Homo sapiens: one gene and its partner. The protein of the gene in region 1 purifies or fractionates together with the protein of each later gene. This does not show direct contact. Each region holds a gene or a part of one and is shown in the gene's direction. Other genes may lie near its edges.

Region 1 (5,089 bases):
CTCGTGGTTCCAAGATGGCTGCCACAGCACCAGGCACGATGTCTGTGCCGCTGTGGCCTGAAGATGGGGAAGTGGGCAGTGCCAGACATGGCCATCCCTTTTATCAGAAAAGGCGCAGTGGCTCATGACTGTAATCCCAATACTTAGGGAGGCAGAGGTGGGAGGATTGCTCTGAGACTAGCCTGGGCAACATGGTGAGACCCCATTTCTACAAACAAATTTTTAAAAATGCTAGCCATGGTGGTGTTCACCTGTGGTCCCAGCTACTCAGGAGGCTGAGGCAGGAGGATCCTTGAGGCCAGGAGGTTGAGGCTACAGGGAGCCATGAAACAGAGCTTGGGGCAACAGAGTGAGACCCTGTCTCAAAAAAAAAAAAAAAAAAAAGTCCTCCAACAGACTTCCCCAGACTGGGTTACAAAGCCACCCCTGGTTGCAAAAGAGGCTGAGAATGTGAGTATCCAACTTTCAGACTCTAAAGACAGAGGCACAAGAGAGAAAGGAGCCAAGAATGGCTGTTGGGTGAGCCAGTTAATTGTGAGTCACAGTTATCACGTAAGAAGCACCTACTGTGTGCACGTGGGATCTTCTAGAAACTTTCCATACAGCGTCTTGTCCTCACAATGGCTCTGCAGGGTTTTATGTTGACAGATGGAGAAGCAGATGCTCTGAGATGAAGAGCAATAACAACATAGATAACAGTGACTCTAACACCCACCATCCCTCCAGTTGAGTCCATGCACAGCATATACCAAGTACAGTGTTGACCACGTTACACTCCTCCTCTCGCAGATCCTCACTAGGCCCTCTCAAGGTCGTGGGAGAATCCCCGTCCTGCAGATGAAGGAGTAAGGACAGCCTAGGCTCCCTGACTCCGAGTCCTGAGTTCACCCGTCCCCAGACCCTGCTGCACATGGCCTGTGGCCTAGCAGACCCTTAGGGTCCCTGCTTCCAGTGCCACCAGTTCTTGTCCACCAGGGAGGGTGGCAGAGCCGGCAGCCAGATAGGCTCCTGCCCTTCACCACTTGAAGGTCAAGTTGCCTGAGATCCCTCTTGGAAGGAAACTGAGAAAACACTATACCAACATCAACATCAACAAATAACATTTAATAGAACTTAGAACTTAATGGAACTTCACAAGACAAGATACTCTTGGTAGCTAAGGGCTAACTTGGGCACTGAGCTTCCTGGCAGTCAAGGCAAAAGTGGAAAATAGTGGATTTTGTAGATGAAAAGCAGCTTGTTTGGCTGTGAGACAGGAAGCCAGCAGTTAAGGGAGGGAAATTCCTTTCCCAGAAAAATGGTCATGGGGTCAGGTCTTCATTTCTGTCCTATGGCACTGAGCTTCTTTAGGACCTAGTTAGTGATATAATCAGGGTGGATTAGAACCAGGCCCCAGTGAGCCGGTTTCTATGACTCAGAAGCTGGTCGCCTCTGCAGGGATCTTGGGCAGTCCACCCTATGTGATTCACCATCTCACAGTAATAAATATGGCCCACCAGGTTGGCACCAACCACATGCCAGGAGCTGAGCTAGAAAAGTGAGCTGCAATACATGTTCAAATTTACAAACATTTTCCATTTGAAGAAACTGAGGCCCAGGAAAGCAAAGTGACTTTCAGCCACTGACACACACAGCTTGGATGCATCAGAGTGGGGATTTCCATCCTGATGCCTTGGAGTCCAAGGCCCATGCCTCCCTATCCACCACGCTGCCCTCCCGCCGGCTGGGTAACTCTGCTTGGCTGATAATGAGGAGCTTAGCCTCAGAGGTGTCCTATCAGCCCCAGAACAGGACTTGTTTGGAGATTTGGGTTTCTCGACCCCAGCCAAGCTCTGTGCATTGCACCCCCTGCCCCTGTCTTCCCCTTCAGAGTCCACACCCCCTAGTCCCAGCCTGCCTCACCTTAGTCCACCACCATCTTTTCTGGAAGGCAGGGGGAAATTTTCTGGCTTTGCTGAAGAAGTTCTGGTGCCACTGTATCGCCCGAATTGGAATGAACAATATATTTTTTTCTTTCGCAACGCATCATAAATCTCAGTGGAAGACTAAACATACTCTTGATGTGTTTATTCTGGCAGACAAGGCTCAGCGTGGGGGTGGGACTTGTTTGAACCTAAGGAAAAGAAAGGCCTTTTGAAAGGAGATAGGGCTCCCGTGCAGGTGGGTGGGAGTGACCCTGCTGTGGTCTCCAGGGCTGCCCTCTGTCCTTCCTGCCTCTGTCACCCGCAGCCACTCTTCTCAGGGCAGCGATGGGGAGGTTGGGGACCTTGGCATGGCCTGTCACCTCTGGAGCCTTGGGTTCTGCTTCTATAAATTGAGAATAAATCTGCCTCTCCCTGCTCTACCACTCAGGTTGAAGTGAACACAGACTGTGACACTTCTGTGAAAATGCAGAATGGTGTCCAAGGGTCTTGACTGTGGAACCACTGCTCTGACATTCTGGGCATGCTACTCAGCCTCCCTGTGCCTCAGTTTCCACATTTGTCAAACTAGTAACAATATAGGCCCACTGTCCCTTCTCTGCAATTCTGAAATCCAAAGAAACACTTTAAAAACCAAAAGTAGCATTTGCAACTAATTTGGTGGCAAAATTGAACCTGAACAGAAGCAAGGCTATGTATGGCCTTTGCCTGCCCCATTCGGGTGTCCCTAGGGAAATAGAAATGAGACTCACTGCAGGCTGCTGCCCCAGCCCCCACTAGTGGGTGTGATCTGTCCCTCCAGGCCCTTTCTAAAATCTGATCCTGTCTCGAGCCGGAGCCCCCAGGGGCTGCCTTGCAGCACTTCAGAGATGAAGAGCACTAACAAACGGGAAGGGCGTCGTGCGGCACTCAGCCGGAGGCTGATGTTGCTGGCATCATTGCCAGTGTTTATTATTATTGCCGCCATTATTCACTTCATGAAGGCCTGGTAAGGGCTCAATAGGTGGCAGCTGTTCCTGCTGCCCTCGTTGTCAGCAGAGCAAGGGCTGCGGGAATGGGGATCTGGGCACGGTGCTAAGATCCTCATCTGCTTGTTTATCCAGCCTCTGGTGAGCAGAGCCCAGCCCTGGGATTCAGGGGCCCTGTGTTTTAGTGTGGGCTCTGCCGCTGATTGCTGTGTGGCTTCGGATAAGTTACCCAGACTCTCTGATCCACAGGCGAGCTCTTGGGCCATGCCCAGTGCAGGCAGTCAGGGATTCTGACTTGTTCTCTCTAGAGAGTGGAGGTGGGAGGAGTGAGAAGGAAGTGAATGCAGTTTGCCCTTTCCTGTGGTGTGTGGGTGCTGAGCTGGGTGCACTTGGCAGGCCATACCTGTGCCAGGGAGGCCCCTGAGGCTCTGAGTGCTGTCACGCTCAAGCAGAAGACATTGGAGGGGAAGGGGCTCACTTGGCCTGGCTGGGAGCCAGAGGTGGGGGCTGTGACAGTGGCAGTGGCTGGCCAGACAACTCCCCAGAGATGTTGGTCAGGGGAACTGTGACTTCCTTCTTGTCCTCCTTGCTCTCACCCTGAAAGCCCCAAATTGTTGGTGCGCACATACCCTCATGTGTGAGACACAGGTGGCGAGACGGGTTCCTAGGGGACAGTGTGGTTCTCTGTGAACTGTCTGCTTGCTGAATTAGAACTTCCTGATTCTCTGGCTTGGGGTTCTCTTGCGATGGGGCAGAGGGAGGAAGAGCAGCTGGAGCCTGGGACAGGGAGAGGTGACCTTTCTCTCCCCTGTTGAGAAGGGAATGGAGGAGTCCAGGCTACCCCTCTGGAAAGGGATTATGGAAAGACACTTGGGCTAGAATCTCTGAAGCACACGCTGGTCACTGGCTCTGCATTCTGGGGTAGCTAATTACGTGGATTGCAGCTGGACTTGCAGAAAAGATGCAGGAAGCGCCCTCATTTCCTATCAGGGTACTGGGATGCAGCCTCTGAGCTGGTGTATCTGTATTCTAGCAAAGCATTTGCCAACATCTCATGTGGGAAACCTGGAGAGGACAGGAAGATGTGGGTCCAATTCATGCATTTATACCTTATTATAAGGGGCTATTTCACACCTTAAAGAGCATGGCAAGAGGTCTGCACAGCACCCCAAGGGGCGGGCACAGGAGCCCGAAAAGTTACCCTGGAGATGTAGTCTAGTCTCAAGTATCTGGATGACATGTGTCCTTCGAGAGAGGGATTTGATTTGTTCCTGTGGTCCTAGCTGGGACTTGGGTAGCTGAGAGAGGAGGAGGATGTGAACTAATACAAGTGGGTAGAAGTCATTTGAGCAGAACTTAAATTGTATCAGAGCCTCTCAACTCCGCAACATGCTATTGTGTGAGGTACTGACTTCCCCATCGCAGGGAGCATTTAAGCAGAGCCTAAAAAAGCATGACTCTTACATTTGGATGATTTGCTGGACGCAAAGGTCTCTCCTAACTCTGACTCTGTGAAAATTCACACTAAAAGAGAAGTCAAAGCTCAGCATTTGGGTGGGACGTGAGTAGAGCCATGCAGAGGACAGCAGGGTCATGGGGAGGCCCTGGGCAGCTTGCCGAGGCTAAGATCCCGGGTCCCTGGAGCTGCACAGATCAAGGTCTGGTCATGTCTCTGCTGCTTTCTATCTATGTGATCTTGGGAAGTTGCTCCAACTCTGAGCCTCATTTTTCTCTTCTGAGAAATGGGGAGGAGGGAGACAGGGAAGACAGGGCTGGCTTCCTCGGCATTCAACCTATGCAGTCACACAGGATAATCTGCTGTTGCTGTATTGAAATTCTTTTTTTTTTCTTTTCTTTTTGAGATAGAGTCTTGCTCTGTTGCCCAGGCTGGAGTGCAGTGGGATGATCTCGGCCCACTGCAACCTCCACTTTCTGGGCTCAGGTGATCCTCCTGCCTCAGCCTCCCAAGTAGCTGGGACTACAGGCACACACCACCAGGCCCAGCTAATTTTTGTGTTTTTAGTAGAGATGGGGTTTCACCATGTTGGCCAGACTGAACTCGAACTCCTGACCTCAAGTGATCTGCCCATTTCGGCCTCCCAAAGTGTTGGGATTACACGTGTGAGCCACCACGCCCAGCTGAAATTCTTAATAATTTTTAAACAAGGGGCCCTGCATTTTTGCTTTGCACTAGGTGTA
Region 2 (5,089 bases), on another chromosome or scaffold:
GGAATGGATTTTTCTATTTCAGAAAAAAAAAACCAAAAAATACCATCATCAGGATTTTCATAGGGGTTGCACTAAATCTGAAGATTGCTTTGTATAGTATTGACAGTTTAAAAATACTAAATTTTTCCAATCCATAAACACAAGTGTCTTTCCATTTATTTTATATCTTTAATTTTTTTTAGCAGTTTTGTAGTTTTCAGTGTACAAGTCTTTCACCTCCTTAGTTTATTCCTAAGTATTTTATTCTTTTTGATGCTATTACAAATGATATTGTTTTCTTAATTTCCTTTTCAGATTATTCATTGTTAGTGTATAGAAATACAACTGAGTTTTGTATGTTGATTTTGTAACCTGCCACTTAACTGAATTCATTTATTAGTTCTAAGAGATTTTTGCATGTGTGTGTATATGTGGGATCCTTAGGGTTTTCTAAATAAAAGATCATGTCATCTGCAAACAGAGCGAATTTTATTTCTTCCTTTCTAATTTGAATTTCTTTTTCTTACCTAATTGCTCTGATTAGAACTTTCAGTCCTATGTCAGATAGAAGTGGCAAACATGGACACCCTGTCTTGTTCCTGATCTTAGGGAAAAAGCCTTCATTCATTTAACATTGAGTATGATGTTAGCTGTGGGTTTTTAATATATGGCCTTTATTATGTTGAGGAAGTTTCCTTCCATTTCAGGTCAACTCTAAAGCATTTATTTTTATTAATCCCTCTTTTTTTTTTTTTTTTTTTTTTTTTTGAGACAGAGTCTCGCTGTGTTGCCAGACTGGAGTGCAGTGGCTGTGTCTCGGCTCACTGCAACCTCCGCCTCCCGGGTTCAAGCGATTCTCCTGCCTCAGCCTCCCAAGTAGCTGGGATTACAGGCACGCACTACCACACCCAGCTAATTTTTGTTTTTTTTTTTTTTAGTAGAGACGGGGTGTCACCATGTTGGCCAGGATGGTCTCGAACTCCTGACCTCGTGATCCGCCTGCCTCGGCCTCCCAAAGTGCTGGGATTACAGGCGTGAGCCACTGTGCCCGGCTAATCCCTCTATCTTTTAATTTTAATTAGAATCACATTGGATTTATAGACTAATTTTGAGAAAATAGTACAGATAAATTTGCATGTTGAACCACAGAATGTTGTCACAGAAAATGTGAGTGGGGAGGAAGAAGAAAGATTATGACATTAAATGTAAGTTTATAAATTTTTATGATACTACTTTGAGAAACATTAATATAGTTTATAAGGAAAATTATATTTTAAGGGATTTTCTACAAAGGTGAAAAAAAATCACCCTATGAGTTTAAAGGATTTTAAGCTTTATATTTAATTCTTTCCTTCTTTTATTAATTTAATCTATATTTCTTCTTTTTTCCTAGGATATCCTAAACCTGAGGAAGGAATACTTGACAGTTTGGGTTGGTATAGCTATCATGACAAATATAAGTGGTAGTATGTGTAGAAACGTGTAGGTAATTAGTTTTTATGAGGTGCCCAAACATAGGATCCTTGGTAGGGTAAGATAACTTTCTTAAATGCTGTGTTTGTATGTAGGTTAAAATATATAAAACACAATTTTCTTTCCACATTATATTGTTATTTTGTGATGGTAATCTGTCGATAAATTTTCTTTCTATTCATATCTTATATACATGAACCTTAAAGCAATCTAAGTTGGGTTTATTTTTTCTGTAACACGCTGATTTAACACACTTGATGTAGGCTTACGCAGTTTACACAATGCATGTTAAAAAAAAAGATGAAGTGCAGTTGTGATATAGGCCAATGAAAAATAAAGATTTCTTAATAAGTAAAAACAAAAATCTATTACCTTTCATTTCTTAGACTAGTTTGGTAATGGTTAATCATTTTATATAATGCACCTTAGGCTTGTTTTTTAGTATTTGCCTTACCTCCAAAATCTGTGGTCCAAGTAAATCTGTTGCCATCTTAAACTGTTAAACACTTGATAACTGTTTATGAGATGAGAAGAGCAGAGTTGAACATAGCACTTTATGCTTTGACTTATAGCAATTTAATAAAAGTAATGGCAGTTTAGAAGCAAAGGTACTAGGGACAGAAACAGTTCTAAAAATTAAGATTTTATAGGATTATTTTGTGTTCTCTAGATAGTCAAAAATGTATTCTCAAATTTCTCTGTATATTTTTTATCCATGTGCCCTGGTGTTTCATTTATTATGGGAATCCTATTGGTATTTAGGACTATGTCTTAATTTTGGGGCAGGGCAGAGTATGGAAGTAGAGAGGATGGGAAGGGGATTGATAAGATAAAGTATTGTTTGTGAAGACTTTGTAAATACCATCTGGGCAATAGAATAATAGAAATTTATTTATGACTCACTCTACAGATCACTTTTGGAGGAAAAAATACAAATTAAATGTCTACCAAAATAAGAAATGACAGAATGACTGTTGAACTAAACCAACTCTCATGGGATAATACTTTTCAAAAATCATTTTCCTTTACTATAGTGAATTCTAATTACTCTAATAACTTTACCGCTAAATAACCTGATGTGGTAGCTATAGAGAAAAACAGTGAAAAATGAGGTTCCCATTAAGAGTTTCACAAGTGGAACCCTTAACCTGGAAACTGGTTAGAAGGGTTCTATGATCAAAATGACCTGGATGCCCTAGCAGTCATGCTAAAACTATATAAAAAATTTTTTTTTCCTCTGTAGTCTTGTATTAGTCCATTCTCAATGCTGTTGTAAGGAACAGTCTGAGACCGGGTAATTTATAAAGGAAAGAGATTTAACTGACTCAGTTCTGCAGGGCTGAGGAGGCCCCAGGAAACTTATAATCATGGAGGAAGGGGAAGCAAACACATTCTTCTTCACATGATGGCAGGAAGGAGAAGTATGAGAACCAAGTGAAGGAGGAAGCCGCTTATAAAACCATCAGATCTCGTGAGAACTTACTATCATGAGAATAGCATGGGGGAAACTGCCTCCATGATTCAATTACCTCTCATGGGGTCCCTCCCACAACACGTGGGGATTATGGGAATTGCGATTCAAGATGAGATTTGGGTGGGGACACAGCCAAACCATATCAAGTGTTTAGATGATCTGATTGAAATAAATGCTATCTGGAGATCCATGTGTTCAACATCTTGGAACTGTTTTCTTTCTCAGATGTTTGGGTCATTGCTGTGATTGTTATTGCCATAGGTAAGTATCACAAATTTTGACACCACTTAAGTCAAAAAATTATTGTGAAGACATGCATTTTAAAAATAGTTTTTCAGTTTCTATAGTTTTTTCAGCTTGTAAATTGGTTAAACCGATTTAGGAAAACCTGACTTTTTATTTGATATACTTAACTACCTACCTTGTGTTAGTGATTTTATACTCTGTTATATTCTGTATATCTACTTAGTAACAAAGCCTAAGTAATACATATTTTCTCAAGATGATCAGTAATATTAGTTGGCTTCCCAAATGTGCTTTTGATAGTTTTCTAAATTAAGCAAGGACTTTTCTCTGACTTACTATGGACTGTGTAAGTGATTATGGGGAGTTGGATTTAGATAGCAAAGAGTCTGGATGGAATATAAATGTGTAGGTGCTTAAATAACATTTGACCACTGAAATGTAACCAACATTTATTTCTTCTGCTAGATGTTGAATCTTGGTGATTAGTTTTCAGAATTATATGTCATTTGTTTCCTGGTTTCTTATAGTTGTTGGAGTTGCAGTAATTTGTGTTGTCCCGTACAGATATCTTCAAAGGAGGAAGAAGAAAGGGTAAATTAAAGCATGTTTCTTTTAACTTCTTGGTCCTTCTTATACTTAACATGCTTTTGTGCAGCTTCAGTTTGTAATCTGTATTGCATGCTATCTTTTTTTTTTTTTTAAAAAAATGCCTGCATTAGTTTGTCCTACCAATTGCATTTCTTTGCTAAAAATATTTTCAGCTACTTCTAACATCACTGCAACATAAAAACATCTGTGCAGAGTTCCTACAGCTATTATGACTTTAAGAAAAATTTCTTTTGGATTTGAGGTTTAAGTTATTTAGCAAATCATGGACCACTCACTATGAGGCCTTCTCTACCCTATTCCCTATTTCCAAAATTGCACTAATGGCCAAAATTAAATTTAAAGTATTTCACTGTGGAGACTTTGACAGTTGTATTCACTGGAATTTTTATAATGAAAGTTTCCACTTGTCTATATAGCTTAGCTAGTTGCAAGAAGCTATGTAGGCATATCATTTAAATACCCAATTTGGTGTCTTTTCATTTAAAGTTGTTATTTATACATGTTAAACTGGGGGATTCAAAACAACACTATCCGATTTCCCTCTTATGTTCTCTGAATTTACCAGATTGCAGTAAAACTGATAGGGTTAAAGTTAAAATTGCTGAGAGGGGTTAGATCTATAAGGTACCTCAATTAACTGTGTCTTTTAATATATAAAAATGTAAAAAGTGAGTGGGTTTAGAATAGAAGAAAAATGTACAAGTACATATCTTCTAAAGAAAATAGGGTTTTAAAACATCAAACTCAAATTTTAGTTAAAGAGCTTACAGTTTAACAAAAGACTTAGAATGAATCCTGGAACACAGACTAAGATTAGGTGCTTTGAAATTTCTGAAAGATAATATACATTCATTTTTACTGATTTTTAAAAACTGTTTTCCCCTATAGTTTTAGAAATAGCTTTGAAATCAAACCTAATAATTTTAAGACTTTTGGTACTCATGGTTTTATGATATATATTCCTTTTATACTGATCATCAGGTTTGGGCTAAGTCATAAAAGTACAAGCTTTACTCATAAGGAACTCAAACTTTTTTCATATTACTTGGTTATCTTTTGAAATACCCATAATCCCTTCACTTGAATCTTAAATCTTGTATTAATGGAACACGATATGCATATTTGATTTATCTATCAGTTGTATATTCTAAAAGTTACATATCTACAACGTGAGTACAAAATATTATCAATGGAATATTTTTACAAATCCATAAGGTTTGCGTAGAAACAAGTTCTAAAGAAAACAAAACAAAGTCGCATTCTGCTTATTTTCCTTCTTTGTTTAAAATATCACTGCATCAGAATTTT

The links. Proteins that work in one complex are often made in the same cells at the same time.
Region 2: the proteins of CD82 (region 1) and CD46 purify together in Homo sapiens (affinity purification with western blotting, with the first as the bait; one study listed by BioGRID). This does not show direct contact.

Annotation. Positions count from the first base shown.
Region 1 is NC_000011.10:44,606,104-44,611,192, forward strand, and holds part of CD82 (CD82 antigen), read left to right. Parts: intron 1-5,089. UniProt on the Homo sapiens protein: Structural component of specialized membrane microdomains known as tetraspanin-enriched microdomains (TERMs), which act as platforms for receptor clustering and signaling.
Region 2 is NC_000001.11:207,781,920-207,787,008, forward strand, and holds part of CD46 (membrane cofactor protein isoform 3 precursor), read left to right. Parts: intron 1-1,372; coding exon 1,373-1,411; intron 1,412-3,151; coding exon 3,152-3,187; intron 3,188-3,699; coding exon 3,700-3,763; intron 3,764-5,089. UniProt on the Homo sapiens protein: Acts as a cofactor for complement factor I, a serine protease which protects autologous cells against complement-mediated injury by cleaving C3b and C4b deposited on host tissue.